2 separate regions of the Homo sapiens genome follow, and region 1 is linked to region 2. Evidence: fine-mapped expression QTL. Tissue or cell type: whole blood. Region 2 holds a variant in brackets; the other region holds the start of a gene. All regions are shown on one strand. Distances are between the middles of the regions.

The links. PIP is the estimated chance that this variant, and not a neighbour inherited with it, causes the effect.
Region 1: it holds the start of CD300C, and the variant in region 2 is fine-mapped to the expression of CD300C in whole blood (TOPMed, PIP above 0.99). The same link has a PIP of 0.9 or more in monocytes.

The regions. Positions count from the first base shown.
Region 1 is chr17:74,544,962-74,547,726 of GRCh38, reverse strand. It overlaps CD300C (CD300c molecule), which reads left to right and starts at 1,612. Exons shown (of 4, transcript NM_006678.5): 1 at 1,612-2,005. The coding sequence starts at 1,945.
Region 2 is chr17:74,513,308-74,516,072 of GRCh38, reverse strand. No RefSeq gene overlaps it. Among named protein-coding and RNA genes, the nearest start is that of CD300LB, 17 kb to the left of the region's middle. The variant A/C (reference allele first, on the strand shown) is at 1,540.

The DNA of each region.
Region 1 (2,765 bases), 32 kb before region 2:
CGGCCACCCTAGATGGGAGCAGACATTGACTCGCCAACAGAAAGACTGAGGAAGACGAGAGGGAAGTGTGAAATGGGTCATGAGGACCCCTAAAAAGCGAGCCACCATAACCCGGGAAGGTCAAGGAACACGCAGGCAACCCTGTCGGCTGGAGCCAGGCAGAGGAGTGGGAGGTTGAGGGTCTGGACAAAGGCCCGAGTGGGGAGGGTGGCAGCACCAGTGTGAACCTGGATCCAGGAGGCTGGAGACACCTACCAGGTGCTGGGGCCTGCCAGGACCTGTGTGCAGAGGCCAGGTCAGGTGGGTGCCATCCTGTGACAGCAGGAGCCATTGGGAGTTCAGCAGCGCCTCCCCAGGGCCATGTGTGTGTGTCAGGGATCACATTGCTGATTCTGTGGAGAATGAAAGGGGTGGGTATGAGCAGAAGGGGAGACCAGGTCAGCCCATGAAAGAGCCGGGATACTTCAAAGCCAGGCCCAGGCCAGACCTGAGCACTGGGCTAATTGGAGGCCCTGGGATTGCACTGGGCTAGAGATAGTCCCATGATGTGAGTCTGGGGGCATCAACACCAATGACCCCAGTGCATGCTGTGTCCCTGAGAGTGTAAATGGAGGGAGGACAGGGCAGGTCGAGGGTGCAGAGACCCCTTCATGGTGCCAGGTTTGCCCAGACTCCCATCACTCTCCACTCAACCTCATGGCTGTGTGCACATACTGGTGCTATTGACTCTGATAGGAAGAAAGGAACAGAAATCTGTAGGAGGGTTGGGAGAGTCAAGGAATATGCTTAAGGCATGAGAAGGTGGAGAAGGGGTGATGCCCTCCAGGACAGACAGGAGGTAAATCCTGTGTCTGACTAGCCTCCTTGCCCTTTCCAGGGTAAAGACACCCTGAGCCCATCACGTCAGGAGAACCAGCCATGCCGAGTGTGGATAGACCTGGGTTCCCGCCTCCTGGGAAGGCCTGTCTGCCATGTCTGCTCCCTGCGGAGGCCCCTGGCCATCACAGTGGACCCAGGATAGACACCAGCAGCCGCTGCTCATGACAAACTGTCCTCTCAGTCACCAAACACCCCTCCGTGTGCCCTGGGGTGTGTGCTGGCTCAGTCGCAGCCTCACATCCTCCACAAAGTCCCACTTCAGCATCTTCACATGTCTGAACTCTCTCTCTATTCTCAGTTCTCTGCCCTGATTCCCACTGGGGCATGGATTTTGGCAAGAAGACAAGATGGAAAAGGAGGGTCTCGGGTGGGTGATGCCGCTGTGTGTGTAGGTCTGGGGGCAGGGGCACAAGAGGAAAACTCCCCAAGCCTGTGGGATTTTAACCTGGTTGGGGACTCAGCACCAAAAAGGGACATGCAGATGGTGTCTGGGTTCATAGCGCTAACTTCTGAGGCCAGAAGAAGAGCTGGGGGTCTTAGGGGCAGAGGTCTCTGCGGGGACCTAGCTGAAGATTAAGGGACACAACCTCTCTCTGGTCACCTCCAAGGCTAAAGAAGGTGGCAGATTTAGCCTCCAACCACAAGATTGTCCATCCTGACCAGGAAGTGACATGTCACAGAGGGTGGAGCAGCCCATGTGGTAGGAAATGGCCCAGCTTGGCTCTGCCTTCTGCAGTGTGAGTAACACACTGAAGCCAGAAGCTGTGGGCTGTGGGGAAGTGGCTGCATCGCCACCCAAGGGACCCTGGACTTTGCCAGACGTCAGGGTTGAGAGGAGCCACTAGCACCATCCCAGAGCTGTCAGCACCGGCCTCAGCCCAGGCGGCTCTCTCCCTGAGCTTCCTGTACCCTGACCCTCTCCAGCCTCAGACCTGAGACAGGGCTGGACAAGGAAGCAGAGAGCAGAAGAAAAGCAGAAGCGAAGCTCAGATCTGCTGGGAGGAGATTACATTTTGTCCCCTCCTGGGGTCTTGCACAGTGGCAGGTGACATTCGTGTTACAGGAATGACTGCCAGGGCCTGGGCCTCGTGGCGGTCTTCAGCTCTGCTCCTCCTGCTTGTCCCAGGTGAGTGGGCCGACCCTGGACTTGGGGAGCTCTGTCCTGAGTGGGAGAGGGCAGGGAGGGGTGCAGGCGCTGGAGTAGCGGTCATAGAGGGGAGTGGGGCAGGGAGAGGGGAGGAGGGCAAAGGAGCACCCAGGAGCGGTCAGCAGCTGCCTCACCAGGGGACAGCAGGCGGCAGGGCACAGCACGGGGGAGGCCTATTCCTCTGTGCCCGAGACAGGAAGCCCTGGTGGGAGGTGATGCTGTGACTGTCATTGCCAAAGTTATCCAATCACAAATTTTATCTGGGACGATCACACACACAGTCACACTCACACGCACACACGGTCACACTCACACAGTCTCACACACATGCACACACAGTCACACTCACACAGTCTCACACACACATGCACACAGTCACACATGCACACACAGTCACACTCACATGCACACACAGTCACACATGCACACACAGTCACACACAGTCACACTCACACAGACAGTCACACTCACACAGTCACACACACAGAGTCACACTCACATGCACACACAGGCCCGCACACACCCAGTGTTTCCCTAGCCTTGCCTTTCCAGTCTCCATGGAAACTTCCCATGCCCTTCCCACCTCTGCACAGAGGGAGCCTCCCACCCTCAGTCCCTGTTCCTGGGTGGACAAAGGCTGCCTGCCTGCCATTGCCTTCTCCACACGCCCAGGGTCCATGAGGGGCTGACACTGCGGCACCCCTGACCAGGCCCCTCTGGTAAGGAGACAGGATTTTGG
Region 2 (2,765 bases):
ACACCAGTGATTTGCCAGGGGCTCTTGGGCTTTCAGCTACAGACTGAAGGTTGCTCTGTCAGCTTCCGTACCTTTGAGGTTTTGGTACTTGGACTGGCTTCCTGGCTCCTCAGCTTGCAAACAGCCTATTGTGGGACTTTACCTTGTGATTGTGTGAGTTCATTTTCCTAATAAACTCCCCTTCATATATATATATATATCTCCTATTAGTTCTGTCCCTCTAGAGAACCCTGAGTAATACAAGTACTAAACTTTATTTAGCTGCCAATTTCTGTTCTAAATCTATGTTTGTCAGGGAACAACTGGTCTGCAAATGCTAATGGCTTTACCTTGGCTCTCCTTCCTTACTTACTCACAAGCAGGTAGTTTCTGGTCCACCATTTTACCTGGGAGATAACGCCTTTGAGTATTCTGGCCGTAAGTGGAGTCTCAGACACAGCTCCCCACTTTGGGTGGCCTCAAGAACACACCCACGGAGGGAGTGTTCTAACCTCAGGGCATCCTTGGGGGCATCAATCAAGGAGAGATGGGGCCACAGGCCTGAGAGCAGGAAGCTGCAGAATTCTCCAAGGCACTGCTCAGGGTCCCCAGTCCAGAGGTCTCCTGTGTGTGGATATAGAATCTAGTGTGACCCTTTGACAGAGACGCCTCGTTGAGCCTTTGTGTCAGAGACACCACTTTTCATCCATTAATGATCGGCCATTTATCATGATGCAAGAGGAGAAAGAGAAAACAGGGGGTTCCAGCAAGGCCAGAGCAGCCAGAGATGGTGAACGATGTCACCCAACATCTGGCTCCCAAGTTTATGGAGGAAGAAGGGGATGTTTTGTGTCTTCTGGGGTTTCCTTTGGTAATGTGTCCCTGTGGTGGCCCTTGGTGTGCTATGATGAGCCACCTGCAGCAGTCAGCACTAGGAAGCCCCAGTAGAGATTGTGTTACCAGCGTGGCAGAGAACTCACAGCCTCTCCCCTGCTTGGTGAACAGGTGCTCCCCCTGGAATCATATGACATCAATCACCCATCACATGATCACCCATGATGTGACATCACCCATCACATGATTGCCCATCACGTGATGTCGCCCATCACGTGATATTGCCCATCACATGACATCACCCATCATATGATCGCCCATCACGTGATGTCGCCCATCATGTGATATCACCCATCACGTGACATCACCCATCACATGATCACCCATCACATGACATCACCTATCACATGACCACCCCCGCATGACATCACCCATTACATGATATCACCCATCACATGACCACCCATCACATGACATCACCTGTCACATGATCACCATCACATCACCCATCACATGATTGCCCATCACATCACCCATCACATGACATCACCCATCACATGACCACCCATTACATGACAGCACCCATCACATGATCACCCATCACATGACATCCCTGTCACATGACATCACTCATCACATGATCACCTATCACATGACATCACCCATCACATGACATCACTCATCACATGATCACCCATCACATGACATCACCTGTCACATGACCAC[A/C]TGTCACATGGCATCACCCATCACATGACATCACCCATCACATGATCACCTGTCACATGATCACCTGTCACATGACATCACCCATGATATGACATCACCCATCACATGATCACTTGTCACATGATCACCCATCACATGACATCACCCATCACATGACATCACCCATCACATGATCGTCGATCACATGACATCACCTATCACATGACCACCCCCACATGACATCACCCATTACATATCACCCATCACATGACCACCCATCACATGACATCACCTGTCACATGATCACCCATCACATGACATCGCCCATCCCATCACCCATCACATGACATCACCCATCACATGACCACTCATCACAGGATCACCTTGTCACATGACCACCTGTCACATGGCATCACCCATCACATGACATAACCCATCACATGGCATCACCCATCACATGACATCACCCATCACATGACATCATGCATCACATGACATCACCCATCACATGACATCACACATCACATGACATCACCCATCACATGACATCACCCATCACATGACATCACCCATCACATGACATCAATGTCCCATAGATAAGCAGAACACTAAATTGATTCTGTAGAGTGAATATGGGATGGAAAAATCCAACTCTAATCATACCCTACTCACCAAGCAGGAAAGACATGCATAAGCTTCACCTGAAAGTCTTATTTTAGGGCATTGTTGTGTAATCCCAGCATTTTGGGAGGCTGAGGCAGGATGTTTGCTTGAGCCCAGGAATTTGAGACCAGCCTGTACTGGCAAGACCCCCCATCTCTATAAAACATTTAAAATAATAAATAAATAAATAAATAAATAAATAAATAAAAACAAAGGCTGTGATTCCAGGAGCAGAATATTTGGTAATGGAACATAAAGAAAGACAAAGGCCAGGCAGGCCATTCGAGGCATCAGTTCAAGTCCATGCCCATGAGCTGCCTCCTGCCTGCTCAGGCAACCTCCCAGGCAGCTGAAATCAGAAAAACAGATGAGGGTCACAAGCATTCAGCTTCCTGGAAAGGAGTGTCCCCAAAATAAATCACTTGAGTTATTGTAGGGTCTCAGTCTCTCTTCTTGTCTGGATGGTGGTCGGGTTCTAGATTTGCAGGAATGAGGACCAGACCCAGGTAAATTCACCAAAGTCGTATCCCAAGAGGAGATCTCCCAACCATGGCCTTTGCATCGTTTAACTCATCAACCTCAGA